3 linked regions of the Homo sapiens genome follow. The protein of the gene in region 3 purifies or fractionates together with the protein of the main gene of each other region. This does not show direct contact. Each region holds a gene or a part of one and is shown on either strand. Other genes may lie near its edges. The genes, in order: GNL3L, WDR6 and FTSJ1.

Evidence for each region.
Region 1: the proteins of FTSJ1 (region 3) and GNL3L purify together in Homo sapiens (affinity purification with mass spectrometry; 2 studies listed by BioGRID and IntAct, with this or other methods). This does not show direct contact.
Region 2: the proteins of FTSJ1 (region 3) and WDR6 purify together in Homo sapiens (affinity purification with mass spectrometry; 3 studies listed by BioGRID and IntAct, with this or other methods). This does not show direct contact.

The regions. Positions count from the first base shown.
Region 1 is NC_000023.11:54,530,935-54,542,078, reverse strand, and holds part of GNL3L (guanine nucleotide-binding protein-like 3-like protein), read right to left. Parts: intron 9,560-11,144; 5' UTR 9,513-9,559; coding exon 9,494-9,512; intron 3,040-9,493; coding exon 2,978-3,039; intron 1,945-2,977; coding exon 1,837-1,944; intron 807-1,836; coding exon 690-806; intron 1-689.
Region 2 is NC_000003.12:49,009,498-49,019,937, reverse strand, and holds the end of WDR6 (tRNA (34-2'-O)-methyltransferase regulator WDR6), read right to left. Parts: intron 8,518-10,440; exon of another isoform or gene 8,326-8,517; coding exon of another isoform or gene 8,304-8,325; coding exon 5,822-8,303; intron 5,729-5,821; coding exon 5,645-5,728; intron 5,556-5,644; coding exon 5,439-5,555; intron 5,361-5,438; coding exon of another isoform or gene 5,339-5,360; coding exon 5,220-5,338; intron 5,114-5,219; coding exon 4,650-5,113; 3' UTR 4,351-4,649; downstream 1-4,350. Other genes in the region: DALRD3 (DALR anticodon-binding domain-containing protein 3), read left to right, coding at 1,374-1,538, 1,620-1,915, 2,069-2,325, 2,425-2,504, 2,582-2,710, 3,091-3,164, 3,265-3,326, 3,427-3,509 and 3 more. UniProt on the Homo sapiens protein: Together with methyltransferase FTSJ1, methylates the 2'-O-ribose of nucleotides at position 34 of the tRNA anticodon loop of substrate tRNAs. Required for the correct positioning of the substrate tRNA for methylation.
Region 3 is NC_000023.11:48,469,781-48,479,198, forward strand, and holds the start of FTSJ1 (tRNA (cytidine(32)/guanosine(34)-2'-O)-methyltransferase), read left to right. Parts: upstream 1-6,418; 5' UTR 6,419-6,616; intron 6,617-6,782; exon of another isoform or gene 6,783-6,888; intron 6,889-8,180; 5' UTR 8,181-8,267; coding exon 8,268-8,388; intron 8,389-8,668; coding exon 8,669-8,738; intron 8,739-8,836; coding exon 8,837-8,927; intron 8,928-9,257; coding exon 9,258-9,336; intron 9,337-9,418. UniProt on the Homo sapiens protein: Methylates the 2'-O-ribose of nucleotides at positions 32 and 34 of the tRNA anticodon loop of substrate tRNAs. Requisite for faithful cytoplasmic translation.

The sequences.
Region 1 (11,144 bases), 6.1 Mb from region 3:
AGGCCACCAAAAAGTAGCTTTGACCAACCAATAAAGCTGGGAACTGGAAGAAAAATGGACAGAACCCCATGGTTCATGTGTGCGCCTATGTGTATACGTGTGCTCGAGCACCAGGTGGAGACCTGAGTGTGCACATGGGTGTGAAAGGGAGGGATGGAGGAGGGAGGTGTGAAAAAAACAATCTATGAGGGACACAGGATGGGGGAGGCATACACACTGCATATCAGAAAAGGGAGTATGAGCTGGCAAGCGTGTATTCTGTGTGTGAAACAAGAACATCTGCCAAAAAGGCAGCAAGAAGCCCTAGAAGGAAGACAACATCCCCTCACATATGCTCCTCTCTGTCTCTCAATCCTCTCCTCATACTTTCGCTCCCTCTCCCCCAACCCCATCCCCTGGTCACATGTAACTCTCCCAGCCCCCAACTCCGCCACCAGCCCCAGTCTTCAGGCTCAACCTTGGGAGAGAGGAGCTCTCCAGAGGTGTCCAGTCACGGGTAAGGCTCAAAATGGCCCTTTATCTCCCTTTATCCCTCCCTCCCTCCCTTCGTCCGTCCCCATGGTTTTCTATCCTCTCTACACTGATTCCCTTGTTCCCCTCCAACAACTTCACACCTTCTTCCCTTTCACAGAAAAACGGCAAAAGATGCTTTGAGCAAACCTACCCAGGGGCAAGGGCTGCACTCTTACCTTATGCTCAAACTCCTCCTGGCGTCTTAGGACATCCTGACAGTAGCTCTCAATGGTCCTGCGTTTTTGTCTTTCTTGCTCCCGGGCGGCTTGCTGCTTCTCCCTCATCTCCTCAACCTAACAAGTGAACACACACTGGTACTGGAGCTGACTGGGTCTGCAGCCTAAGGGAGGGATGGGTGACAGACAGAGGAAATGGTGCGACATGGCAGAGGTGGCAGGAGCAGGGTCCAGGGAGAGGGAAGATATGACATCAGGAGATGAGGGTTTGAGAAGAAGAAAAAGAGAGATGAAGGGAAGGAAAGAGTTGCAGAGAAAAGAGGGTATAAAAAGCAGAGAGAGAATGTATCCTAGGCAGGCGGAACCACTTAAGACCAGAGATGGAAAGAAGCCAAGGTCCTGGGATGCTTCATCATTTAAAGATAAGGAAGAAGGCTGGGCAGGGTGGCTCACGCCTGTAATCTCAACACTTTGGGAGGCCAAGGCAGGTGGATCACCTGAGGTCAGGAGTTCAAGACCAGCCTGACCAACATGGTGAAACTCCATCTCTACTAAAAATACAAAATTAGCTGGGCGTGGTGGTGCATGCCTGTAATCCCAGCTACTCAGGAGGCTGAGGCAGGAGAATCGCTTGAACCCGGGAGGTAGAGGTTGCAGTGAATCGAGATCACACCACTGCACTCCAGCCGGGACAACAAGGTGAAATTCCATCTCAAAAAAAAAGATAAGAAAGGGGAAAAAGTGGCAAAAGAGACTGTCAGTGGCTAGTCAAAGAAGAAAGACATCCAGGAGAGTGAGATGACAAGAAAGTCCACATGCTTCAAAGAAAGCATAGCCTCAAATGCTGAGCATTCCAATAAGATGAGGGAAGAATACTATTCATGAATGTGATGTCAGGGAAGGCGCTGATGAGGCCAGCAGGGGCAGTGTCAGCAGAGCAGTGGAAGCATAAGCCAGACAGCAATGGACTGGGTGGTGAACAAACGCAGACATAAATCCAGTATCATGGTAACCTCCCTCTCTCCCGGCTTCCACAAATAGCCTCAACAACCCTAACAACTCTTGCCTTTGCCCTTCCATTCAACACTTCTGCGGACCTGGCATTCAAGGCAGGCCCTCTCTCTCCCCACCAAGGCAAAAAGCTTACCCACTTCTTCTTTAATTCAGCCTCTCGATTGGCATGATCATTGGGGTGAACAAAATGAGGTGCAGAGGGCACTTTGGAGGTTGCTTTCTTCCCATTTTGCTTTGCAGGCTGGCCACCACATAAGAGAAAAAAAACAGAGGTAATGAACCCATGGAAATCACCTCAAAAAGGCAGCAAGAAGCCCTAGAAGGAAGACAACATCCCCTCATAAATGCCCCTTCTATCTCTCAATCCTCTCATCCTCTCATCCCCTCACTCCCAAGGTGAGCAGCAGGAGTTAAAGCTTCTCAGATAAGTGTAGTTGTGGGGACAAAGAAAGGAGAGAAGCAAAAAGGGCTCCATCCCCAAAGATCTGCCCATCTGGCTGGGTAGAGGTCCTCTCTCCTATAGCTAGGCAGGGACTGACAGGAGACCTCTCAGAGGGGAAGGGCAGCTGGGAAGGTTTCCCAAGGCCCAGGGAAAACCTTTCTAGATAAGTGACTCTCAAAAGAGTGGTCCTCAGACCAGCAGTAGCAGCAGCACCTGGGAACTTGCTAGAAATACAAATCATGGGATGCCATGCCAGACCTACTGAATCAGAAACTCTGAGGTGGGGCCCAGCAATCGATGTTTTCCCCCATCCTCCAGGTGATTCTAGAGGACTGGTTAAAGTTTGAGAGCTTCACCCATGCTAAATTGTGAGAACCCAAGCCTTCTCTGGCCTATACCTTCTTCTCATTGCTCTTTCCCAAGCCTTACTTACCCACACCTTTCCCAGCAGGACCAGGAGATCCAGGAACCAAAGATGATGTTTTGGCCTCCCTCTTCTCCATAAGAAACAGGGACTTGAGAATCAGACAGTCTCAAATCCCAGTTGCGTTACCTTGAACCTAGGAACTTTCTCACTGACAGTTTCCTCAACTAAAACATGGGGATAATGATAATCCCTACCAAGGTAAATCAAGCACGAAGCTGCATATGACTTGGGAAAAATGCTGCTGATTCTCTGCTGCGGCCACCCAGAGAAGGAGGGAAAGCCAGATCCACTGACTCCAATGTGGCACTCTGTCCAGAGTCACCCAATATTTACTGGGTTTAGTGGGCCTCTCCCAGGACAAGCAACCTGTTCTTGACCTTACCCTCAACAACAGGCATACCTTACCTGAGGGTAGGGCCAACTTATCTTCTTGTGGCCCTTGGAACCTTCACCTGGCTTTTTATTTTCTACAAAAGAAAAAAAAGAAAGAAAAGAGCCGTCATCCATCTACACGATATTTGTTGACATCTGAATCAAGGCCAGGCCACACTGGGAACCTAGCTAGGAAGCCTCAGATACCATGTCTGTCTAGATCCAGCACAAGACAAGAGATGCGGATGGCAGCAATAGTATCAGAGGAAGTACTGGATATAATATTTGCACATTATTTCACTGCAAACTCAAATAATTCTGAGAGGAATTCTGTACAGAGAGAAACCTGAATATGTGCTTGTGACTCCTCTTTCCCCCAGAACTTCCTACTGGGGGAAACTCAACAATTTAAGTGCCAGGCTGAGATGAGGGAGCTGGCAGAATGAGAAGGTAATCTAAGGAGTCCCAGCCCACTAAACCTGGGCAGATGCCCTCAGTATGTGGGGAAAGAACCATCCTTCCTGCTGACCCTGCTCAGGCCATTGCCTCCAAAGGGACTTGACCTACTCAGCCAAAATGCTGCCGCCTCCCTCAGATACAAAAAGAAGAGATCTACCACTTCTCCAATCATGACTTAGCAAAGCCCAAGAACTTATGAGGCCTCTCCCCTTCTTCAATAAGAAGTCCCATCTCTCAACCCGTTCACAGTTGGCCTATTGGGAAGAATGGCTCCCTTTAATTCTTACCACCTTCATAGGGGCTCAAGGAATTCCTAGAGAGACAGGAGTTTCTGGAAGCTCAGGATATATACAAACAAATATATTATATGAGCAGCTCGAGAATACCACACAGAGAACAGGCTCCACAATCACATCAGTTGGCTCCCACTGCAGAGTTAAGGTACGAAACAGAACTTAAGTTCTACTGCAAATTCTTTTTATTTTGAGACCGACTCTTGCTCTATTGCCCAGGATGGAGTGCAGTGGTGTGATCTGGGCTCACTGCAACTTCTGCCTCCCGGGTTCAAGCGATTCTCCTGCCTCAGCCTCCCGTATTCGTATACAAAAATACAAATTTTTGTATTTTTAGTAGAGATGGGGTTTTGCCATTTAGCCAGGCTAGTCTCGAGCTACTGCAAATTCTTAAGGAGAATCAAGAAGATACTTCAAAGGAACTGTGTGAGAAAAAAAGATTTTCCAAAACTTGACACTGAATAAAAATTCAAAAGCTGGGTGCCGTGGTGCATGCTTGTAGCCCCAGCTACATGAGAGGTTAAGGTAGGAGGATCCCTTGAGCCCAGGAGTTCTAATCCAGCCTGGGCAACAAAGCAAGACCCCATCTCTTAAAAAAATACACAAACACAGACTGCTTTAACAGTCAAAACTTAAGCTGGGCACAGTAGCACCTGCCTGTTGCTAGCTGGGAGGCTGAGGCAAGAGGATCACTTGACCCTAGGAGTTCGAGAACAGCCTAGGCAACATAGTGAGACTCTGTCTCTTAAAAAAATTCAATAGAAATAGTGAAAAACAAAAAAGACATCACTAACAACCAAATTAATAAGCTAGAAGACCAAAGGAGGGGCTTACTTAGAGCAAAAATTCAAAGAAATTGAAATGATGAGCAAAAATATAAAAGAAAAAATGGACAATAGAGCCAAGACAGCTAAAATCTAAACAGGAGTTCCTGAAAGAGAAAAGGGTACAAATGGAGAAGCAATAATTTTCTGAATAACAGACGAAAGTTCCTTAAGTTGAACATAGGCTTGAGGTTTCAGACTGGAAAGACACAGGCAGCAGCAAGATTAACAACCAAGGCCGGGTGCCATGGCTCACCCTGTCATCCCAGCATTTTGGGAGGCTGAGGTGGGAGGATCGCTTGACACTAGGAGTTTGCGACTAATCCAGGCAACATAGTGAGACCTTGTCTATATAAAAAAAAAAGTTTAATTAACCAGGTGTGGCGGCATGCACCTGTAGTCCTAGCTCTCAGGAAGCTGAGGCGGGAGGACTGGTTGATCCCAGGAATTCAAAGTTATAATGAGCTATGATGGCACCATTGCACTCCAGCCTGGACAACAGAGACCCTGTCTCAAAAAAAAAAAAAAAAAAGATTAACAACCAAAAAGACATACCCTGGACATATCCTGATGAAATTTCTGAACTCTAAAGATAAAGAGATAAAATTCTAACCAACAGATCACTCTTACTTTGTGAAAGTAAGAAAAAGACATTTTCAGGTGAGCAAAGATTACCACTTGCCTTTCTTTCTTTCCTTTCTTTCCTTTCCTTCCTTCCTTTCTTTCGTCTCTCCCTCCCTCCCTCCCTCTCTCTCTCTGTTTTTTTTTTTTTTTGAGACAAAGTCTCGCTCTGTTGCCCAGGCTGGAGTGCAGTGGTGCCACCTGAGCTCACTACAACCTCCACCTCCCAGGTTCAAGGAAATCTCCTGCCTCAGCCTCTGGAGTAGCTGGGATTACAGGCGTGCACCACTGTGCCTGGCTAATTTTTTTATTTTTAGTAGAGACGGGGTTTCGCCATGTTGGCCAGGCTGGTCTCAAACTCCTGGCCTCAAGTCATTGGCTCGCCTTGGCCTCCCAAAGTGCTGGGATTACAGGCATGAGCCACCACGCCTGGCCCTGTGTTTCCTTTTGGATAAAACTACTGGCAAAATAAAAATTAAATCAGAATAAAGATCCCAAGCTAAAGGAAACAAACAGTGGTGGGCAGGAAATCTACGGAAATCTACTAAAACTTATCACTGAGGCCAGGAGCGATGGCTCACAGCTATAATCCCTGCACTTTGGGAGGCCAAGGCGGGTGGATCACTTGAGGTCAGAAGTTCAAGACCAGCCTGGCCAACATGGTGAAACCCCATCTCTACTAAAAATACAAAAATTAGGAGTTTGAGACCAGCCTGCCCAACATGGTGAAACCCCGTCTCTACTAAAAATACAAAAATTAGCCGGATGCCTGACTTGAGGTCAGGAGTTTGAGACCAGCCTGCCCAACATGGTGAAACCCCGTCTCTACTAAAAATACAAAAATTAGCCGGGCGTGTTGGCACGCACCTGTAATCCCAGCTACTCGAGAGGCTGAGGCAGGAAAATTGCTTGAACCCAGGAGGTGGAGGTTGCAGTGAGCCAAGATCGCACCACTGCACTCCAGCCTGGGCAACACAGCAAGACTCTTGTCTCAAAAAAAAAAAAAAATTAGCCAGGTGTGATGGCACATGTTTGTTGTCCCAGCTACTCAGGAGGCTGAGGCAGGAAGATCACTTGAGCCCAGGAGGCGGAGGTTGTGGTGAGCCATGATCACACCTGCACTCTAGCCTGGCCGACAGAGTGAGACCCTGTCTCAAAAAAACAACAAAAAAAGGATTCTTAAAATCGAAGAAGCATATCATAAGGAAATAGCTCAGAACTGAAATACCAAATTATTTCAATAAAATCCAGGAATCAAGTAATGGGGGTTGGAAAAGCAAAAGCATGAAAGCATGCTAAAGGTTTCATTTTGAAAGGGTAGGTTACAAAATAGTCATTATTTAACTTTGGTAAAGTGATAAATACAGAATTAATTATGTTTGATATAAATATGAATACAATTACCAACATAACTTAATTACCGATGGAGGATTGTTTAAAAACTTCATCAAGTTAGCAAAACATAAATAAGGGAATAAGAGGAAACAAAATAAATAATAAATATAAAATAAGATGGTAGAGAGCCGTGCACGGTGGCTCACACCTGTAATCCCAGCACTTTGGGAGGCTGAGGTGGGCGGATCACTAGGTCAGGAGTTCGAGACCAGCCTGGCCAACATGGTGAAACCCTGTCTCCACTAAAAATACAAAAATTAGCTGGGCATGGTGGCAGGCACCTGTAATCCCAACTACTCGGGAGGCTGAGGCAAGAGAATCGCTTGAACCCAGGAGGCGGAGGTTGCAGTGAGCTGAGATCGCGCCATTGCACTCCAGCCCGGGTGACAGGGCGAGACTGCATCTCAAAAAATAAATAAATAAAAAATAAGACGGTAGAAATCTGACCAGACATAAACGTCTCATAACAAATGTGAATGGGTCGAATTTAAATAAACACAGTTTAAATAAACACGAAACAGACCACCAGTCTCCTTTCTTCTAAAGTACTCATGTTGCAACAACAACAACAAAAAAAATGTGAGGTTTGGAATGAACCAGGTCTGGACATTTCACTCAACAATTTCCATCTGCCTAACTTCCCTGGAAACTGAGTGCCTGCAATGGATACAAGCACACAGTGAAAGAAAACACATCACTTGGAGAGAAAAAGAATGTGCTTCAGAGGGGAGAAGAGAAGGGGGGAGGGAAAAAGGAGAAGGGGGTGCAGTCAGTCATCCCTCCCAGCACTCAGGAGCCTCTGCTCATAGGTTTTTCAACAACTCCAGAGAGAAAACAGCTACCATTTTATAACCAGCAGACATTCTTACTCTGGCTCAACAACTACCTAGCTATATGACCTTGAAGAATTTTTTAAAACCTCTCTGAGCCTCAATGCATCCACCAATATCATCTAGGCCTAAAATCACCAATTCATCAGTACTCAAAAGCAGATCTCTGTATTCGCTAATCCCTCATCTCCCATACTGTCACCCACAGATGTCCCTGTACACCCACTGACTTCATTCCCCTCATCCTTCCTCTGCCGTAGCATCAAATTTCCCACAACATTCTCTGAAACTCCCACCTGGGTGATCAGCACTCCCCTAACAACCTCTCCCTGGGATCAATTGTCCAAGCTCCTGCCTTGATACTTGGCTCTCCCAAGGACAATGCTTCACTTGCAGGCCTCTCAAAAGGTGGTTGTTGTTTTCACTGCCACACGTTTATCCGGGGGTCAGTAGGTAGAGAACGTAGCCCTCCAGACTCACCAGTGCCAAGCTGAGACTATTTTTCCCTCTTGTTAAAAAGAAAAAAAAAAAAAACCAGGTGTGGTAGCTCACGCCTGTAATCCCAGCACTTTGGGAAGCCAAGATGGGAGGATTGTTTGAGCTCAGCAGTTCAAGCCCAGCCTGGACAACATAGAAAGACCCTCATCTCTATTGAAAAAAAAAATTAGTGGGGCATAGTGGCAAATGCCTGCTTTCAGTTAGCAAATCTGAAGATCTTTCCATCTAATAGTCTTTCCACACAATACAGTTTTTCCATATAATCTTTCTATATGATACTACTTTATCTTTTAAACAGCCAGAATTCTTAAGTATGCATATATCCTACTTTATTTAACGAGGTAATTTTTGTCTTTTCCATCACTATCAATATTTCTATCATCTAGTATTAGATGTTCCTAAATAAAGTATAATTACCACCTTTCTTGTGTTACTTATAAATATGATTATTTGGTCGGGCATGGTGGTTCACGCCTGCAATTCCAGCACTTTGGGAGGCCAAGGCAGGCGGATCACTTGAGGTCAGGAGTTCAAGACCAGACTGGCCAACATGGCAAAACCCCGTCTCTACTGGTAACAAAGCAAGAGTCCATCTCAAAAAAACATAAAAAATAAAATAAAAGTATGATTATTTGCTTTTGGTATTAACAGTATGATTCTTGATGACATTTTTATGATTATATAAAAAATGTATTTTTTTCCCACCAAGCTGTCCACTGGCAGGGCCAGCATTCACACAGAAAACAGAGCACAATCCTCATCCAGCCTGCCCAGTGCCAGTGTGCTATCCAAATGTTATCATTTTCTTTTCTTTTTTTGTTTTGTTTTATTCCTTTTTTTTTTTTTTGAGACAGCGTCTCACTCTGTCGCCCAGACTGGAGTGCAGTGGCATGATCTTGGCTCACCACAACCTCTGCTTCCCAGGCTCAAGCGATTCTCCTGCCTCAGCCTCCCAAGCAGCTGGCATTACAGGCACGCTCTTAATCACTAGTACAACTTATGGTACCAACTGATAGAGAAAAATGTTAGGACATGTCGGGGTTACAGGCAGTGTGATATGTTTTTATCGCAATTCACCTCAGATCAAGTCACTTAACCTTGCTAAGCTTCAGTTTCCTCATCTGTAAATTGAGAATGGGGCATAATGGAAACATTCTCTTACAAGGAAGTCAGGAGGACAGCAATGATACCATATGAAAAAGATCCAGACTGAGTGATGTGAAACATATTCAACAGTTTTTAAAAGTTGCTGTGAAGGCTGGGCGCAGTGGCTCATGCCTGTAATCCCAGCACTTTGGGAGGCCGACGTAGGCAGATGACTTGCGGTCAGGAGTTCGAGACCAGCCTGGCCAACATGGTGAAACTCCGTCTCTACTAAAAATACAAAAAGTAGCCTGGCATGGTGGCACACACCTATAATCCCAGCTACTCGGTAGGCTGAGGCAGGAAATGCTTGAAACCGGGAGGCGGAGGTTGCAGTGAACTGAGATTGCACCACTGCACTCCAGCCTAGGTGACAGAGCGAGACTCCATCTCAAAACAAAAACCAAAAAAACAAAAAGTTGCTGTGAAATTCTATGAATATTCATTAAAAGCACAGGATTGGGAGGGGTGGTAAAGGAAACTCACTGTGTCTAAGTTTCATCATGATGACCAGCTTGAAAGCAGATAGGTTCAAATCTGCTTGCTCTCTTCCTGTCAGAATGGGAGAAGAAGCAATTTGAAGACAGCTGGGAATCACAATGCCACAAGCCCCCTCCTAAGTCCCCTAAAGGTAAAATGTTAAAGAACATTATGAGGAAGGCGTAATAATTAGGAAAACTGGGAGAAGCTGGAGCTAAAGCCTCATATGGCTGAGTCCACACAGAGAAGGCAGTGTCATACTACCCAAAGGGAGGAATAGGTCTCAACCTCATCCGGGGTGGAGTCAGTGGCTCAAAGCCACTGGGCTTTGAGCCCAGTGGGGTCAAATGGGGTCAGATGGGGTCTTTGGTCCTTATTCCTCCACACTGTAGTGTTATATTCTAGGTAGGGGACTAGTGCTCAACACCTCCACACTGAGGGGAAAGGGACATGCAAGGATGGTCTATTTCTATATGGGGTGATAATAGTGCCTCTTTTCCCAAGTAGGGGATTCTATATCTCATCTACCCTGGGAGAGGTGGTGGGGAAGGGCGTAAATAGATCTCAGGAGTCTACCCTGGGGAAAAGGGGCCTGAGAACAGGGATTCTTACCTGAGTGTCTATATGGATTGAGATAAGTACAAAATCTTGGAGGAGGGGGTAAAAATCTGTGCCTGCATATGCCTGGGGTCTATACCTTGGTGATTTGGGTTGGGGGGATTGCCATCTGTCCCTCTACTCTGGGGTGCAGAGAAACTGGGGAAACCCACAAAGTGGCTGTGTGCATCTCTGCTGCATGGGGAAAGAATCACAGATCTGTTTATCTCTAGATTGTGGGGATGGGTCCTGCGTCTCTTCACCCTGGAGAGGGCTGTGGTACAGGATCGATATGCCTGATTCCACAACTATGCAGCTTTGAATAAGCGGGTCTGCACCTTACCTGCAGTGAGCTATTCTGGACCCTTCTATGGAAGGTGGACTGTGACAACTTTCATCTTTTATGCTGGTTGAAGTCAGCGGCACACTAACACTGAAAGAAATAGGGGCTCTGGTTCTCTGCATGGGTGGTGTGTGGAGGGGGCTGGCAATGCAGCTATAAATTAATAGATCAGCCCTAATACTTGGGGGTGGGGGCGTCTGTGATTCTACCCTGGGTGGAGAGAAACAGATCTGAGCTCCACTACCTTGGGTAAAGGGGAGAGACCATACGCACTGAACTGCCAGGTAATCAGCGATGTCACTCCCTCTCAACATTACAGGGAGGGAGACCTGCATATCTGCTCCTGTGGGGTATCTCCCTTGCTACATTTAGTGATTCTAAATCTTTGGGGGAGGTAGGGGGAGGTAGGGGGATGATCTGTGTCTACCTCAAAGGGAGAGGAACACATCTGAGCCCCTCTACCCCCACGGCCCCTCAAGGGGCAGACCTGACTGTCTCTTCATGGATTAAGGTCTGTTCCTGTTTGCTTCGAAGCATGTTGGGTGCTTCGAAAAATTACACATTCGGTAAAACGGGGGCTACGGAAGTAGGGATCAGGTCTGATTCTCCACAATGGGGACTCACTCTAACCTAAGAGGAGGGGGCAATTGGCTTAGTTGTCCATAAGCTGAGGCCTGTAACTGCAACCACTTTGGGGACGGGTGAGTTGGGGAGCGA
Region 2 (10,440 bases), on a different chromosome or scaffold from region 3:
CCTATTGGTAGAGGAGCAAGATACTCCAACTGAGGCCTATTTTCTATTATGGTCGCATTATTTGGTTGGCCCGTAAATGGCTGTTGCCTAAAACAGGAAGCTTTAAGGATCGTTGTTAAAGCACACCAGGTTAAAGGAGTCACATTAAAAGCTGGTCATTCTGAGCCGGGCGCGGTGGCTCACGCCTGTAATCCCAGCACTTTGGGAGGCCGAGGCAGGCGGATCACCTGAGGTCGGGAGTTCGAGGCTTGACAAACATGGAGAAACCCCGTCTCTATTAAAAATACAAAAGTAGCCGGGCGTGGTGGCGCGTGCCTGTAATCCCAGCTACTTGGGAGACTGAGGCAGGATAATCACTTGAACCCGGGAGGGGGAGGTTGCGGTGAGCCAAGATCACACCACTGTACTCCAGCCTGGGCAACAGGAGCGAAACTCCGTCTCAAAAAAAAAAAAAAAAAGTCTGGTAATTCTGGAAGCCATCATGATGGTTGTGATTTCTCAGGTATCAAGAGAAGAAAACCGCCAACTGTATCAGAGTGCTTATTTATTGGGCATAAAGACCACCCGGGCTGGGTGCAGTGGCTGATGCCTGTAATCCCAGCACTTTCGGAGGCCGAGGCGGGCAGGTCACGAGGTCAGGAGTTCGAGACCAGCCTGGCCAACATGGCGAAACCCCGTCTCTACTAAAAATACAAAAATTAGCCGGGCGTGGTGGCGGGCGCCCGTAATCCCAGCTACTCGGGAGGCTGAGGAGGAGAATCCTGTGAATCCGGGAGGTGGAGGCTGCAGTGAGCCGAGATCGTGCCACTGCACTCCAGCCTGGGAGACAAGAGCAAGACTCCGTCTCAAACAAACAAAAAAACACCCATATCTCAAACGAGAAAATGCTTGCAAATAACCTGAAACCGCGGAACACTATTCTTTTTAAAACGAGATATTTTAAGTAGGTCGTGAAAGTGGCCTTAATGTTATACTGCCTTATTCCAGTGACGAATATTCATCATGTGTAAAATGGGAGAAATGAAATGTTATTAAAACAAACATGTGAGACTTCGATGAGAAGAGACGGTACCCGGTCTAAGCGCCCACCGGGTCGCGAGGATCCTTTTCCTGGTTAAGGCCTGGGTCACAGCGAAAGAACCCTAGGCCCAGGGAGGGCCCCGAGATTTCAGATCCGGGGCCCGGCTGTGCAGGTGGACCACGCGGAAGGGGCGCTGGGGGCGGTAGGTCGAAAGCAGCCGACAGGGCTACCACTGGCGCACCTGTCCACTTACGGGGACCACCGCCGCATCCCCGCCCCAGCTAGTCGGTCCTTTCCGGAAGTTCCACCTCCCTAAATTTTTTTCCGGTTCCGCTTACTCCTTCCGGTCACCATGGCGACCAGGCGCCTTGGGGTCGGGGAGACGCTGGGGGCCCTCAACGCGGCCCTGGGGCCAGGCGGTCCGGTGTGGATCAAGGAGACGCGCACCCGCCACCTGCGTTCCCGAGACTTTCTGGCACCGCACCGCGCGCTGCAGGCGCGCTTCGATGACGGCCAGGTGGGCGTGAGCCGGGCGGGGCCGTGCGGCCGGGAGATGGGCCCCGTGCCGTGGCTCTTTTACACGCCCGTTCTCCCGCAGGTTCCGGAGCATTTGCTCCATGCCCTCGCCTGCCTGCAGGGCCCCGGTGTGGCCCCGGTGCTGCGCTGCGCGCCGACCCCCGCGGGTCTGTCTCTCCAACTGCAGCGGTCCGCCGTCTTCGAGCGCGTCCTCAGCGCCGTGGCCGCCTATGCCACGCCCGCCTCGCCTGCCTCGCTGGGCCAGCGCGTCTTACTACACTGCCCAGCACTGCGCAGCTCCCCCTGCGCACTCCGCTTGAGCCAGCTGCGTACGGTGCTCGTGGCCGATCACCTGGCGCGAGCCCTGCGCGCTCACGGGTGAGCGGGGCCGCGGGGCCGGAATGGAGAAAGTGGGACTGCCGGGTACCTAGAAAGCGAGCGGCGCCGCCCGTGGGGACTGCGGCTGGAGGTGGGAAGTCGTGGCGAGCTGGACCAGGTGCTCAGACTGAGGCGGCCGCCCTCCCTTCGCAGGGTGTGCGTGCGCCTAGTGCCAGCTGTGCGGGATCCGCACATGCTGACCTTCCTGCAGCAACTGCGGGTGGACTGGCCCGCTGCCTCGGAGAGAGCTTCCTCCCACACCCTGAGGAGCCACGCCCTTGAAGAACTTACCTCTGCTAATGACGGGAGGACACTGTCCCCTGGCATCCTAGGCAGACTGTGTCTGAAGGAGCTGGTGGAAGAACAGGGCCGCACAGCTGGCTATGACCCCAACCTGGACAACTGTCTGGGTAGGACCTGAAGCCTAGCAGGGCCAGAAAAGGCAGGAGGGGGTTAGGGGCACATCTCTGCTTCTTGTCAGTCTCAGCACCTGTCTGTTCTCTTTTCAGTGACTGAGGATCTCCTCTCTGTGCTGGCTGAGCTGCAAGAGGCTCTATGGCATTGGCCCGAGGACAGCCACCCAGGCCTGGTTAGTGACTCCCAGCCCTGTAGGTTCTCCCAAACCAAGTATACTGTACTTCCACAGTTATGATTGTCCTCCCTTAGGCTGGGGCCTCAGATACTGGTACAGGCGGCTGCCTGGTTGTACATGTTGTTAGCTGTGAGGAGGAGTTCCAGCAACAGAAGTTGGACCTGCTTTGGCAGAAGTTGGTTGACAAGGCTCCACTCAGACAGGTAGGTTAATAATGATGGTGGAGCTCCCCACCACCTAACCCCCAACCTCAGAGGGCCCTTGAAAACCCACCGAGGGGCTTGTTAGCTGACAGAAACCAACACTTGACCTTGGGGGAGTTGCTGGACTTGAGAGGGCATGTACAGCAGGTGCAGAGGCTCTGGGGAAGGGGGGTCTGTAGACACATCCCAAGAACACTGAAGACCAGGTTGAGAAGGATGAACCATGCGTAGCCTGAGTGGCTGGGTAGACGGAGGCACTCAACCTGGCAGTTCCAATTTGAGGGAGTCTGGGCTGAGTAGAGGCACCAGATTTGGGCTCCTCAAGGGACTTCCTGGAGAGTAGCGCCAACTAGGCTGAGCCCCTGACATCTTTCTGACAGAAGCACCTCATCTGTGGCCCTGTGAAAGTAGCTGGTGCACCTGGCACTCTGATGACTGCCCCTGAGTACTACGAGTGAGTGAGGCTGGGAGGAACACCAACCTAAGCCAGGGTAATGAGGGGGGACTCTTTACCCAGGACCCTGCCCACTGGCCTTCCTCTCTTCCAAACACAGGTTCCGGCATACCCAGGTGTGCAAGGCCTCAGCACTGAAGCATGGTGGGGATCTGGCACAAGGTGTGCCTGGGAAACCCTGGCTATGTTCTGGGTTAGGGGCAGGTTTTTTGCATCCCTGCCCTTGCCTGCAGACTGACTGACCAACCCTATACTCCCTCAGACCCAGCCTGGACAGAGATCTTTGGTGTTCTCTCTGTGGCCACCATCAAGTTTGAGATGCTGAGCACAGCCCCACAGAGTCAGGTGAGCCTGGGAGCCTGACAGGGCCAGTGTTGGGGCACAGGGTGTGGTGGCTGCCTTCTCTCTCTGCAGCTGTGCTTCTATTCCCCAGCTCTTCCTGGCTCTGGCTGACAGCAGTATCTCCACGAAGGGCACAAAGAGTGGCACCTTTGTCATGTATAATTGTGCCCGTCTTGCCACACTCTTTGAGAGTTACAAGTGTAGTATGGAACAAGGTCTGTACCCCACTTTTCCTCCTGTGAGCAGTCTGGACTTCTCACTGCTACATGATGAGGTGAGTGTCCCTCCTGGTAGCTGGCACAAGGAGGCCTGGACTTCCCCTCCCAGCACCTTTCTCCCCAACAGGGTGAGTGGTTGTTGCTCTTCAACAGTATCCTCCCCTTTCCGGATCTGCTGAGCCGGACAGCAGTGCTGGACTGCACAGCCCCGGGGCTCCACATTGCTGTACGCACAGAGATGGTGAGGCATAGACAACCAGGACACTCTACACTCTATTCTTTATTCTGGCCTGGGGCACAAGAGCAAAGAGATGGGCCAGTGACTCAGTCTCTGTCTCTAGATATGCAAGTTCCTGGTACAGCTCAGCATGGATTTCAGCTCCTACTACAACCGGGTACACATCCTGGGGGTGAGCACACAGCAAAATGGGGTGGGACGTGCAGAGAGGTATAGGGTAAAGGCAAAGGAAGCAGAGGATGAGACCAGCAGGCCCTTTCTCTTTCAGGAGCCTCGACCACACCTCTTTGGTCAGATGTTCGTCCGCCTGCAGCTTCTGAGAGCTGTGCGTGAGGTGCTCCATACTGGCCTGGCTATGCTGGGTCTCCCTCCACTGAGCCACATTTAAGGCCACAGAGGCTCCAATACCTGGGAATGTTCACAAAGTCATCAACTGGAAAAAAAGCAAAAACCCACGGCCAAAATAAATTGGTACTGTTTGTTACAAAGTTCTGTCTTGTCATGGGGAGTCGGGCATATTCTTGGCAGCACTCCACTCACCTTCAGCTCCTGCACCGACATCAGGAACCCACGGCCACCACCTCCTCCCCTCAAGGCATGCTGAGCATGGGCACAGACAGCCCATCCCTGCTCCATGCTGTCTGTGAGCAGGCCCCATGCCCAGCACGCCAGCCACCGCAGGATACCTCAGTCATACCAGTTGTAAACCTCAAGCCCCTGACCCCCAAGGGCACAACGGTGGCCAAACTCAGGGCTCACAGGCCAGCAGTCCATGTCAGCCACATCAGGCACATGGAACACAGTGCTATTCATGAAGGTGGGTTCACCATGCCCCAGACGCCAGAAGGTCAGCCGTTGATCAATGGAGGCTGAGACCATGATGCTTGGGCTTAGGATCTTGAGGCCTGTCACATGGGCAGCATGTGCACAGGGGACAGAGTATTCCTCTAGCACACGCAGCTGGGGTACCAGCCCAGCCTCTCCCACAGCCTCTTCTAGCTGTAGCATCTCCACAGCAAGCACGAAGACATGGAGGGATCCATCTTCACTGCCACTGGCCACGAGATGGTGGCCCTCACGGGTGGGCAAGGTGTGCAGGCTGTTGATACCACAGCTGTGGGCCTGGAGAGTCAGGGAGGGGGTGCCAAGCCCTGAAGGAAGAGGAAGAGGGTAGTTGTCAGGGCCCCGCCTGCCACATGTGTGAGGGCTATGTGACAGGTGAGGAGGGGTAGCCATGGTTGCACATTAGCTACTCACGGTAGGGAAGCCCAGGATCCACTGGAGGCTCCAGGACAGTGGAGTCATGGTCTAGCATGGTGGTGAGATCCCAGAAAGCCAGGCTGCCATCAGTAGCTGCGCTGCACAGGAGGAGCCTCCTGAGAGCCAGGAAAAGACAGCCTGGTCAATAACAGAGATGAAGCTCAACAGGAACCCCCCAACCCAGCCCATGCAGGACCATCATCCAGCCCCTCTCACCGCCTCTGGTTGGGTGCCTCGTGTGTAAAGGAGTGGACCTTGAGGACACATCGCTTATGGTGGAAGGTTTCAGCAAGGAGCTGCAGAATCCGCCCAGAATCCTGCAAAAGAAAGAGCCTGGGGGGCGGGGGGTGGCCCAGCTCAGAACGCATCCTAGACAACCTTACTTCCTTTGTCTCCTGTCCCACTGGGCCCTATGCTCTCACCTTACGGCCCCATCACTACAGGCTGCAGCCACAAGGGGGCCAAGGCCGGGCTGGTCAAGTTCACACACAGCAAGGGACATGTACCTGCAGAGACAACATGCAGCTGTCAGGTGGAGCCTGCAAGCCTGGGAGCATCTGCATGACCCATACCACACCCTGCCCAGGAGCATATATTACCTGGTCTCTGGGTCTACCTTAACCATCCGATGCCGATTGCGTTGCCGGTCCCAATACTCATCTAGCCGGTGGGACGAAAGGTGCATGACATGGCAGGCGAGGCGGCTTGGGGTGCTGGGGTCCGGAGTAACCATGATGCTGAAGCAGTGCATCTCAGCCCGCCCCCCCGCAGACACCACATGGGCAGTCAGGCCTGGCTGAGGATCCTGAGGGCCACCTGGGGTGCCAATGCCCCACACAGCCACAGCACGTACCGAGGAGATATGGTTACAAACAGCTGTGAGTGCGTGGGCTGAGCCTGTGGTTGTAGGGAGTGCTAGGACACAGACAGTAGTGTCCTCACTACATGTGATCACAATGTCAGTCAAGTCGGGCCCCTCACTGCCAGGCTCCAGGTCATCAGGCTGCATGAAGCTGGGCACTCCATATTCAGGCCCCAGGGTAATGGTGCCCACACGCTTTACACAAGTGATCTCACGGCCATGCAGACCCTCCCGGAGAATCACGTGTGGCCGGGTGCAGCCACCCAGAGCCCTGTACAGCATGACATCCCCATCCTTGAGGTAAGCAAAGGCCATGGCCGCCTCAGTATCAGAGAATGCCCACGAACGGTGCCCTCCACCACAGTTGACGATGTGCAGCTTCTCGTGTGACCGAGGGTTCCACACCACAAACTCATTGGCATGGAAACCCAGGATAACCATGCTCCCATCGGGCACTATACGGAGCCCAGCTAGCCAGTTCATGCCTCGACAGGACTTCTGCCTTAGGACTGGCTGGAGCTGGCCGTCTCGTACAAACAGCTGGTAGTAGGCTCCATCACGCCCTGTGGTATACACATAGCCACCATGGCATGTGACTGAGGTCACACCCTGCTTCCCGTGCAGAGAGGGCAGGGTAGACACTGGGCCCAACCCAGTGAAAGCATTCCCACCCCCACTACTACCACTACCCACTACAGGTGCCCCAGCACCAGCCCGAGCCTTGCCTCCCACCCCAGGGTCCTTGAGCAGACCTGGTCTGGAGGGGAATAGCAGCACAGAGCCCCGGCGGTCACCACACACCAGGAAGTCACCTGGGGGTAGGAAGGCACTGCATGTGTGCCATCTCTGCTTGCTTGGGGGCAGCAGGTACCGACAACGTTCCTTGACAAAGATGGCCTTGCCAGAGGGTGCGGCTGAGATCTCTAGGCAAGCTACTACCCCGCCAGGGCCCGATGCCAGCAACAGGAGCTCCTCATAACCACGCAGGGCCCAGCTCAAGCTGTGCACCTTCCCAGGAAACAGGGTCTGGTCCACAGCAGCAGTTGGAGTGTTGATGGGGACAACCTTGACACGACCTTCCCCATTGGCCATAGCACACAATCCGAAGCCCTCGGGACCAGGAGCTGCCTCCAGCAGGCAGTAGGACTGGAAATGTTTATCCTCTAGCAGCTGCTCCCAGCACTTGACCTCGACGTCATAGAGATACAGGGCCCCTGTATCAGTCACTGCCAGCAGTCGCCAAGAGCCAGCCAGAGTCACAGCCTTGAGTGTACCTGGCCTACTACGGGACTTGAAGCAGAGAGCCGAGACCCCCAATCCCCGGTACCCACGCCCTACCAAGTGCCACAGCCGAATGCCTGAGTCATCACCCCCAGTGATCACCCAGGCCTGCCTCTCATGGGCAGCTATGGCCCGGATCCCACGTCCCTGGTGTCCCCGAAAGGCCTGGAGGATCTCACCTTCATGGCTCCACACCAAGCAGACACAATCCTCTCCTGCACTGATAAGGTAATTCTCTAGAAGCTTGACCTGCCACACACGGGCGCTGTGCCCAAAGCAGTGCCCAATATTCTGCACCCGACCCCCAGGCACTCGCAGGTCGCCCACCTTCCAGATACGAACGCTTCGGTCTTCTGAAGCTGTAGCCAGCAATCCCTTGCTTTCCAGGTATGACATGCTGAAGATGATGCCCACATGCCCACTGATTCGTCGGTCAGGTGCTACAGGTTTGTTGTCTGCTAAGGCAGTTGCTGGGTACCAGACCAAGAGCTGGTTGGAAACAGCACCTGCCACTATGGTCAGCTCCTTCCAGGCGTCTCCAATCAGGCAGGCTGAAGAGAGGGTGCACCTGTCTGTGCAGGGCACCTCTTGCAGGATGCACCCTACTACAGGGTCATATAGCACCACTGAGTTGTGGCCCAGGGCCAAGGCTATATTTCCCTCAAGCCAGCGTGCATCCCAAATCCAGTCAGACATGTTCCACAGGCCAGAGCGCCAAAGCTCCCAGAAGTGGCCCTGTCCCCAGCTAATTTTCACAACTCGGAGTCCCTTGCTTCCAAACACAGCCACCATGGCCTCCAAGTCAAGGTCTCCATTAGGCTCTGGCCGTACCCGGAAGCCATGGATAAGATAGTGGCCAAGCAGGTTCTGCACTCGCTTTATCATCCGCAGATGCCCACCAAAGTCCAAGCTGTACACCAGGACATCGGGACCCTCACCTAGATAGAGGCAAAGAGCCATGTCAGAGCTAGGTACCTAACTCTGATGACCCACAGGGAAGAGATGGGGATCAGGGAAACTTCTCGGCATGTAGCCTATGAATGCATCAGGACACACAATCCTGCAGCTTGAATCTTAGAAAATCCTTGGTCTCGGCCGGGTGCGGTGGCTCACGCCTGTAATCTGGGCACTTTGGAAAGCCAAAGCCAGACTCTGTCTCAAAAGAAAAAAAAAAAAAAGAAAATCCTTGGTCTCGGCCAGGCACGGTGGCTCACGCCTGTAATCCTAGCACTTTGGGAAGCCCAGGCGGATGAATCACCTGAGGTCAGGGGTTCAGGACTAGCCTGGCCAACAAGGTGAAAACCCCATCTCTACTAAAAAATTAGCCAGGTGTGGTGGCACGTGCCTGTAATCCCAGCTACTCAGGAGGCTGAGGCAGGAGAATCGCTTGAACCCAGCGGGTGGAGGTTGCAGTGAGCCAAGATCATACCACTTCACTCCAGCCTGGGCGAAAGACTCAAAAAAAAAAAAAGAAAAAAGAAAATCCTTGGTCTCAGCTTCAGCTGGACTTTCAGTGCTGACTTTGTGCTTCCCTCATCAGTCATTCTTTTTTTTTTTGAGACAGAGTCTCATTCTGTCGCTGAGGCTGGAGTGCAGTGGCACCGTGCAGCTCACTGCAACCTCCATCTCCTGGGTTCAAGCAACTCTCCTGCCTCAGCCTCCCAAGTAGCTGGAATTACAGGCGCCCACCACCACACCTGGCTAGTTTTTTTTTTTTTTTTTTGAGACGGAGTCTTGCTCTGTAGCCCAGGCTGGAGTGCAGTGGCACGATCTCAGCTCACTGCAAGTTCCACCTCCCGGGTTCAGGCCATTCTCCTGCCTCAGCCTCCCGAGTAGCTGGGACTACAGGGGCCTGCCCCCATGCCCGGCTAATTTTTTGTATTTTTAATAGAGACAGGGTTTCACCGTGTTAGCCAGGATGATCTCGATCTCCTGACCTCGTGATCTGCCCGCCTCAGCCTCCCAAAGTGCTGGGATTATAGGCGTGAGCCACCAAGCCCGACCAGTTTTTATATTTTTAGTAGAGACAGGGTTTCACCATGTTGGCCACGCTGGTCTCGAACTCCTGACCTGCGGTGATCCACCCACCTTGGCCTCCCAAAGTGCCGGGATTACAGGCGTGAGCCATTGTGCCCGGCCCCCTCATCAGTCACTCTTTTTTTTTTTTGAGACAAAGTCTCACTCTGCCGCCCAAGCTGGAGTGCTGTGGCGCGATCTTGGCTCACTACAAGCTCTGCCTCCCAGGTTTACGCCATCCTCCTGCCTCAGCCTCCCAAGTAGCTGGGACTACAGGCATCCGCCACCATGCCCGGCTAATTTTTTGTATTTTTAGTAGAGACGGGGTTTCACTGTGTTAGCCAGGATGGTCTCGATCTCCTGACCTCATGATCCGCCCACCTCGGCCTCCCAAAGTGCTGGGAATACAGGCGTGAGCCACCGCGCCCAGCCTCATCAGTCACGCTTGATGTTCACTTCAACCACAAATTTCTCAAACTCAGAGCCTCCTCCTCACCTCACTTTTTTTTTTTAATTAAAAAAAAAATAGAGATGGGGCCTGGCACAGTGGCTCACACCGATAATCCCAGCACTTTGGAAGGCAGGAGGCTCGCTTAAGCCCAGGAGTTTGAGACCAGCCTGGGCAACAGGGCAAAACTCCACCTCTAAAAAAATTATACAAATGAGCTGGGCATAATGGCGCATGCCTGTAGTCCCAGCTACTTGGGAGGCTGAGGTGAGAGGATCTCTTGAGCCCAAGAGGTGGAAGTTGCAGTGACCTGAGATTGCACCACTGCACTCCACCCTGAGCAATAGAGCAAGACTCTGTCTCAAAAAAAAAAAAAGTAAAATAAAATGAGAAGGATTTTGACAATGCAAAAAGAAAATAAAAGATGTAAAATGAGAAAGTCTAATCCAGTGGTTCTCCACAGGGGGCAACTTTCCCCACAGGAGACATCTAGCAATAGCTGGAGACACGTACGGCTGTCTCCAGGGGTTGTGCTACTGGCAAGTAAGGCCAGGGATGATGCTAAACATCCTACAATGCACAAACAGCATTCCAACAAAGAATTATCTGGT
Region 3 (9,418 bases):
ACAGAAAGACAGATGGGCGGGAGGAGGGGATGCTAGGGGAGCTTGGAAGACAGGCAGAGACAGGGAGAAAGGGACACACAGGCAGACTCAGAAACAAACAGGTGGGTAGGGATAGGCTCGTGGAAACACCTGCAGAAAGGCAACAGGCAATTGGGCTCAGTCATAGACAGGAGACACAGGCTGGCCAAGAGGTGGGGGACAGAGCCAGACAGCTCCCCAAACAGAGGGTAGGACCAGACACACCAGCTCAGAGAGATGAAGGGGCAGAGAGAGTGGTTGAGGCAGAGAGACTCCTGGAGGGACAGGAGAAAAGAGGCAGAGAGAGGCAGATTCAGGCAGAGAGGCCTGGGGACAGCAGGGGAACAGGTGCAGGGGTAGTAGCCAGGCTATTCCAGGCAGACCTCAGGCAGACAGCCTAGGCACGAGAGGACCCTAGATCTTGGGGGCCCCCAGAGGGAGGCAGGGAGGGCATTTGTGGCTGGGTGGGGAATGTGGACTGTGAACTCACACTGTCCGCAAACTGGGCGGGCACTGTAGTCCTGGACCCCACCCCAAGCGTGGGGTGGGGCTTGTCCAAGCCCTGAGAAGTCCCACTATCTGTCTGTCCGTCTGTCTTCTATGGGAGTCCGTCTGTTCACTCCCCTCCAGGCATATGACAGGCATGCCTGTCCCAGGCAAGCCACGTGTCCGCTACAGGATGTCAGGCAGGGTGGACTTGGGGTCTGGGACCACCTCGACTGGGCTGCTTGAAGCCCAGGTGGACAAGAGGCCTCTGTCTGGGCCCCTCGCCCGCCTGCCCACCCCCGACAGGGAACACAGAATTCCCGGAAAGGCCAGGAGCTGGCTGGGGCTTCAAAGCTGGCCTAGATGCCCTCACCCCACCCACAGTTGGAGGAGGACAAGGGATGGGGCGTTTACTTCCCCACAGCGGGAGAGAGACTCCTGCACACTCAGGAATCGCAGCTACACAACAGGACCCATCACAGCCCCATCAAGGGGCTCAGATACGGGGGCCAACTCGCCATCACTCACAGAGGTGCACAAAGACTCACAGCCACACAAGAGAATAAAGACTGACAGACATGAACACACACAGACTCACCACTGCACGTTAAGAGCAATGGCTCATGGGACAGTCACACACGTGGCCACACAGAGTGACGATAGTCTTACAGCTATCAATACCGACAGGCTCAGAGCCGCTCACAGAGAGCACAGACTAACACAGGGATAGGCTTGTGCCGATTTCCAGACACTCGAGACTCCTGAACCTCACCGCCCGTGGACCCACAGCCATGCCAAAGACAATCAACAGGCAAATCACACACACAGATTCACAGCCACACACAGAGCACACAATTACACACAGCTGATGACATTGTGTGTGGGTCCTGGGTCTTTCCCACACACACGATCCAGGTTCAGATGGCCCTGGATCTGAACCTGAATCCAGGTTCAGATGACCCTGGAGGCAAACTTCCAGGTTCAAGCCCTAAAATGATATCTCTGTGTATGTGAACTTGAATGTGCACTTGTGACCACATGTAACCACATACAGCTCCAGTCACAGAGAGAGGCACTCATAGGCTGACATGATTTTTGTACAAACAGAAAAGCCATAGTCTCCTTCTCTCTCTCTCTCCTCTCTCTCTCTCTCTCACACACACACACACACACAACTGCATTTCAGCAAATGGCTGCACACAGCCGTGTACACACACAGCTAGTCACAAATCAAGTCAGAAAAGAAACATATAGGGAAAGCATATACCTGCACACAAACACAAAGCACAGGAATGCAGAGTACGCTTACTATCGTTGCAAAGAAAAAATCCAGAAACCACACTGAAAGCTACACAAGGAAAAAACAAGAGAACCAGATAGTACTCATACCATGGCACCAGAAGAAACACCCCGAGGGCACACATACCTGCAGCCACTCGCTAAGAAGAGACACAAATACAGCAGCAGACACACAAAGAAAGATACGTGCGCATAGATACACATATAGGAGGGACAAGTACTCTGACACACTTGTCACCCACGACCATTACAAAGGAGACAAACACCCAAGCAACACACACACACAACAACATATAGATGAACTGCACCGACAGACAGTACCAATGCACACGGTTGCCAAAAAAAAAAAAAAAAAAAAGGTATGAGTTGGGCCGGGTGCAGTGGTTCATGCCTGTAATCCCAGCACTTTGGGAGGCCAAGGTGAGTGAATCATGAGGTCAGTAGTTCGAGACCAGCCTGGCCAACGTGGCGAAACCCCGTCTCTACTAAAAATACAAAAAAAATTAGCTGGGCGTGGTGGCGGGTTCCTGTAATCCCAGCTACTCGGGAGGCTGAGGCAAGAGAATTGCTTGAACCTGGAAGGCGGAGGTTGCAGTGAGCCAAGATCGCGCCACTGCACTCCGGCCCAAGCGACAGAGTGAGACTCCATCTCAAAAAAAAAAAAAAAAAAAAGCACAAGTTTGGCAGGCGGCCATAGACAGAACGCAGCACCAGGCAAGTTACATAGGAAGACGCAGGCACAGCTCACATACGTGTGGCTGTGGCTGAGAACGGGCAGGTGAGATACACTCAGCATATTCACACACACGTGCGCACACACTCCTGCCCAACCTCCTCCAGCCTCTGTCTCCTTTCCTATCTACTCTGATTTCTCTCTCCCCTCATACCCCTCCCCCACCCAGAGCCATTACACATCTGTGCTACCAGCTGGCCAGGGAAAGAGACACCTGTCACTAGAGGCTTTGACCCAGATGGCTAAAGGTCGGGGGGTGGGGGGGATGCAGGTATCCATATTTCAAGTCTGAAGTGTCCCGTCCAAATAACTAGCATACTTTATTTGGATTTAAAAAAAAAAAAAAAAGACAACCCCCCTCCCCTCTGCATCCATTCGCCGCCTCCCTGCCACAGCCTCCTGCTCTGATTGCTCCCCTTCCCTCCCAGGGCCTGCCTCTACTGGCCTTCCAACATGGACCAACACAGGGCTACCAGGCACACAGCAGGCGCTCAACAAAGGCCACTTATCTAATGTCGTATTATTATCATTACTTTTATTTCTGCCAAAGGAACTCTTCTACGGGAGAGATGAACCTCCATCCAGCTCTGAGAACCCGACAGCTCTGCTAAGTTTCAGGGCACTGCAGATAGCAGGTGCTCAACATAAGCCGGTATGGCAGCGGGAAAACAAAGGGAATGTGTGATCTGGCTGCTTAGAGGAATTTGCTTTAGAAGGAACAGATGTCTTTAAGCAGGACCGAGGCCTTGAGGCTGTGCCAGGGATAAGAACACTTTGTTAGTTCATCAAAGTAGGGCTCCTTCTCAGGGTCATTTAAGGTTTCTGTTGGTTCAGTAAACCAGACCCTTGTGTGACACATGGGAGTCCCGTGAAATCTGTTAAAAGTCACTTTGGGTTATCATCAGTTCTAAGGAGACATTTGATGAAAACAGCTCACTTCCCGGTAGCATCCAGGGGAGGGAGGGACACAGTGAAGCAGTTAACAGCAAAAGCTTTCTCAGCTCTGCCACTTATTAGCTGTGTGGCTAAACAAGCAAATTCCTAAACCTCACTGAGTCTCAGCTTCCTCAAGGGCCTAATAACGCCTAACTCATTGGGCTATCGAGACAATTGAATTAATTAACACAGGCAGAGCACTTAAGACAATGCTTTACACATAGTTATTGCTCAATACATATTTGTGGGAGGAATTAATGATTTCTTCTCTGCGAAAGCAAAGTCCCACTTGCTGGGCTGCATATGGGATTCCAATCTGTCCTTTCATGCAGGCTCCCCACGGAGTAACTCTTTCCAGTCACTTCCTTTCCTCAAAGCAGCCCCTGGGCAGCAAAGTCCTAGTCCCCTGCCCCTGGGCCACCCCCCTCGTTCCCTCACACTGCTAAGATGCCCCCACCGGGAAAGAGCTGGCCTGGCAGCTCCCCCTTCCTTGACCCCTCCAGGAGGCCAAGGGAAGGACACCTTTACACTCAGTGGGGTGCCGGGTGGGAGCTGCAGGCCGACACCCTACTTCGGGAAGAGCCTGGAGAGTTCAGAGCCTGGCTCCTGTCCCCCAAACCCCCGGTCCTGCTGGAGGAAGCAAGTTTCTTTGCTAAAAGTTAAACATCCTCTTCGTGAGCGACAAGAAAACAGGACGTGGGAAGCGTCCCACAGGGTGAACATGGGCCCCCAATGCCTGGCACCCCCTCCTCTCTTGTGGAGCGGAGGCCTGGTGGCTCGAACCCTTCCTTTCTCACACTCGCTCGCCTCTGCAGGGGAGTCATGTTCCCACAGTCCCACAATGCCCTTGAGTTCTGCTGACAAAGCTCTGGCTTCTTCCCTGGTTCTCAGAGTCTCTACGCCTCCACCCAGGGCTCCATAGAAATGCAGGACGCACCACTGGGGAAAAAATTAAGGAACGAAGCAACAAAAGGATGAATTCAACCAACATTTATTGAACACCAACTGTGCGCCACCCCTGTTCCAGGCACTGGGAGGCAGCAGTGAACATGACAGAACAGGAATCCCTGCCTGGTGAAGCTCGTGTGCTAAGGAATCAATCATTCTGTTTTTTTTTTTTTTCTTGAGACAGGGTCTCACTCTGTCGCCCAAGCTGGAGTGCAGTAGCACGATGTCGGCTCACTGCAACCTCCACCTCCCAGGTTCAAGTGATCCTCCCACCTTGGCCTCCTGAGTAGCTGGGACTAGAGGTGCGCATCACCACGCCCAGCTAATTTTTGTATTTTTAGTAGAGACGGGGTTGCACTATGTTGGCCAGGCTGGTCTCCAACTCCTGACCTCAAGTGATCCCCCCGCCTCGCCCTCCCAAAGTTCTGGGATTATAGGCGTGAGCCACTGCATCCAGCCCTTTTATTTTTTAAAGAGACATGGGTTCTCGCTATGTTGCCCAGACTAGATTCAAACCCCTGGGCTCCAGGGATCCTCCCACCTCAGCCTCTGGAGTAGCTGGGACTAAAGGCACATGCCGCCGCCCCTGGCTAATACTCATATGCATGTTGCCAGGATTAAAATGAATGAACAAAGGGAAGGACATGCTGGAGCCAACTTATACAGGTTGGGAGGAGCTGTTCAATTTTCAGAAATTTTGCAAACTGGTTGTTAAACAGCTGGTTTAACAACTGGTTTTGTTTGTTTGTTGAGACAGGGTCTCACTCTGTCACCCACAGTGGAGTGCAGTGGCAAGATCAAGGCTCACTGCAGCCTTGACCTCCCAGGCTCATGCAATCCTCCCACCTCAGCCTCCCAAGTAGCTGGAACTACTCGCACACACCACCACGCCCGGCTATTTTTATTATTTGTAGAGACGGGGATCTCACCATATTGCCCAGGCTGGTCTTGAAGTCCTGGACTCAAGCGATCCTTCCACCTCAGCCCCCTAAAGTTAAACAGCTATGGTTAAAAATGAAATGATATAAACTTACTCAAAACTGGTAACTTCCTAATTTTACCACATTCCACTATTCTCTATGCTCTTGAGGTCATTTACCCCCATTTTATCTGTATGGTAAAAATAATACATGATAGTGCACTACTGCATCTCTTTTAAACTCCCTGTTCAGTGACCACAGGTCGGTACCTTGAAATCTAACAAGAAGATTGTACCTAAGCCATGGAAATTGGTAAATGCTAGAAACCAGCCTCCCTTCCCCCCACCCCTCCCCGCCACCACCCCCGCCCCAGCCAGTGGTTAACCATTTACCAGCACACCACTGAGGGCATTTAGAGCCTAGCACATGGTAAACACTATGATAAACGTTTTCATTATTTTTCCGTTTGTCCACTGGGTCAGGATGTATAGTCTTTTTTTGTGTCTGGGATGGAATTTAAAATATTTGAAGATCACAGAATTACAAAAGCCCAGAGAGTGGCTAAGCTACACCTATTTAACCCTCCCAATAATGCTGTTAAGTCTATACTATTGATTATCCCCACTTTCCAGACAGGGAAACTGAAGTTCTGAGGCAGTAAAACTCAGGCAGCGCCATGCATTAGCTGTAGTGCGATCTGAAATTGCAGCCGAGCAGCCTCCGCGCGCTCGCGCACTTCAAGAACGCATTTTCCTTACTGTCACGTTTATGCCCCGAGTGGTAATTTCGCTTCCCGGCACGCGAAAAATGAATGGGCGCCATCTTGCGCGTGGCATCTTGGGAAATGTAGTTTACAGGCTCAATAACAAGCACGGTCCAAGAAGGGAGGGGCGGGGGAGCAAATCGATCTTGGCCTCGGAAGAAAAAGAACAAAGAATCGCTGGCAACTTGCGCGTCGCGTCGCTGCAGCCACGCAGTGCGTGGATTCAGCCGCTTTGGCCGTGCCCGTTGCATGCCGGGAAACGCAGTTCGCGAGCCCCGGATACGTCGACAATAGATGACGGGGCTCACGTTGTACGTTCACATCAGGTCCCGGCCCGCCGGAACCTGGGCGATCCACGATGCCGAGTTTGCCACGCTGCGACAGCCCATAGGCTTGCCCCCCCGGGCATTCGGGTGGACTACGAACACAAACTGAAGCCCTAGGACTTGTCGCCCGTTTGCGCTCTCGCCGAGGCACAGGCTGCTCGCGGACCACCCTGCTCCGAAAACTAAGGTGGGCCCTGGGGCGCGGAGGACAGGAATGCGGGCGGAGGCTATTGAGGCACGCCTGCACTGTCCCGCCTGCGGGGAAAGGAGGGAGGTCCGCCCTGGGCGCCGTAGCTGTGTATGGTTCGGGCGGCTGGCACCGGGTGGGTTCTAGACCCAAGGTTTGTCTGCAGAAGGGGACCAGTAGACGGGGTGGATTCGAGGTGGGGACATGGGACGCAGCGGTCGGAGCCGCCTGGAGGGGTACCCGGTGGTCCCGATGGAGCTATCATCTTTGAGGTATTGATGAGGAGGGACGGGGAGTGTGGTCAGAAGGCTGTTTTGGGAGGTTGGGTGGAGCGTGAGGGTGGGGTGTTACTGGGGAATCAATGGGGGCTAATAAGAATATTTTAGTCGAACTGTTGTTCATTGATTGATTAATGAGGGGATGGCAGAGTAAGCAACTAGAATATAACGAGTGATGGATGGGAAAATGATCCCCCAGGTATTGATGGAGGTATGATATTCAACGGGTTAATGGAAAGTGATGGGGCATCGTAATGGCAAGGATGATGGTGAGGTTGTGGGGGGAATAATAGATGGATGGAGGTCATGATCAAGGGGCCTTGGTGAAAGAAAAGATAATGAGAGGCTGATGGTGTTGTAGTCAGAGTCAGTAGTTGGGCTATGGTGGCATGACCGTCGAGGAATTAGGGGACAGAGTGAGTAAAGAGAGGGCAATAGTAAACTAGGGTTGGGGGGGTTAACTTCTGTTGATACATAGTAGGTGAATAGTAAACTGTTGGAGTGTGATCATCCAGTGATGGATCCATGGAGAGCAGGGTGGACAGTGAGGGGAGAATGGGGAACTGATGTGTGATCAGTTAACGTGTTTGTTAATGAAAGAGTTACAGGGCAGGAGGCTAGTGCTGTGATCTATGAAGGGTCTATTGGAGAAAACTGAGTTAATGGGGGCTGATAAATCAGTAATTGAATGCTTAATGGGGAGCTAATAGACCATGATTCTCCAGGCATTGTTAGAGGTTCATAAGGATGTAGTAATAAAGGGGCCTAATCATCTAAGGGATTAATGGCGAATGGGGTGAAACGAGAGAGATATAGGGAGTGGGAGGTACAATGAAGTAGTATTAGGATAAAGGTGGAAAACAAGGGATTAATGGGGGCTAATAGGACTATATGAATCTAGGGGCAATGGGGACAACTGGGGATACAGTCAGTGAGATTTTAATGGGCATGACATGAGCAGAGAAGGGTTGATAGTGGCAGTTGCAGGGTTTAATGTGTGGAGTGTGGGTGACAGTGATGGGAGGTGGACAGGTTCACAAGTGGGCCATCTATGGGATGAATGTTGGGTTTATGGGGTCTTTTGTGGGAACTGTGGGGTAAGTGATGGGGGCGAGGAGGGTCTGTGTGATAAGCAGTGGAGCCTGAGAGTTCAGTGATTGGGTCCTTCAGGCCCTATAAGGTCAGTGGGGTCAGTGCCAGGGCTTCAGTCAGCCCATCTTCTGTGTGAGCTGTCATGTGGGTCAGATGAGCCCAGTTTAGTTTGTGTGGTTCTCTCCGCCCTACAGAGGTAGGTGGTAGCCCATTCATCTGGTTACTGATACTGGCCGGCATCAGTGGACTGTCGGCAGGTCCTTGAGCAACTGGTGTGTGAAATGGGACGGACGTCAAAGGACAAGCGGGATGTCTACTACCGCCTGGCCAAGGAGAATGGCTGGCGTGCTCGCAGCGCCTTCAAACTGCTACAACTGGATAAGGAATTCCAACTCTTCCAAGGTCCCTGACTGGTGGGCAGGTCACTGGGCGGTGAGGTGGGCACAGGAGGTAAACAAGTAGGCTGGGTCTGCAGAGCTCCCTGTGGTAGGTGGGCTGACTCAGAGGGTCTCTGGGGCAGGGAGACAGGCAGGAAGATAGGCAGAATACCGGAGAGGAGTTGGGCACCTGGGCAATGGAGATATGTGGGTGCTCCCCAGGGGAGAGGGGTGAATTTTGCAAGGGTCTCCAGGTTGGAGAAGTGGGTGCAGCTGATCAGGATGCTTTCACTATGTATGCCCAGGCGTGACACGGGCAGTTGACCTGTGTGCAGCCCCAGGCAGCTGGAGCCAGGTGCTGAGCCAGAAGATCGGGTAAGTGTGGGGGTCCCAGATGGGAGACCCAGGAGGGCCGGCTGGGTGGGAGGGGCCCGGGAGCGAAACTAGGCTGATGTGGGCCATGTTGTCCACAGGGGCCAAGGGTCCGGCCACGTGGTGGCTGTGGACCTGCAGGCTATGGCTCCACTACCAGGTGTGGTACAGATCCAGGGGGACATCACCCAGGTAAGAGCATGGCTGAGGGTGTTGGGGTATATCCTGGGTGAAGGCCCTTACCTGGGGTCTATGCAGAGTGGAAGAGAAACAGAGAGGTGATAGAAACAGAGAGAGAAAGAGAGTGAGAGAGTAACCATGGAGAAACAGTCAGCAGGTCATCATTGCACAGACACAGCAGAAAATGATGATGCTGGGTCCCCAGAGGTGGAGCCCAGTCTTAGAGAGGCAAAGCCTGGGAATTTGGCTGACCCAGGGGCTGTGGGCCAGGACCATGGGCAGGCGGGATCTGAGGGCAGCAGTGGAGGGCCGTGGGGCCACTCATCCTCCCTCTCTCCATAGCTGTCCACTGCCAAGGAGATCATCCAGCACTTTAAGGGCTGCCCTGCGGACCTAGTGGTGTGTGACGGGGCTCCTGATGGTAAATAGCAACAGAAAGTGGGAGGCCAGGCGGGGCCCCCTGTGTGTGTCCTTCTCTGTATCTCCCACCTTGGTTGACTTAT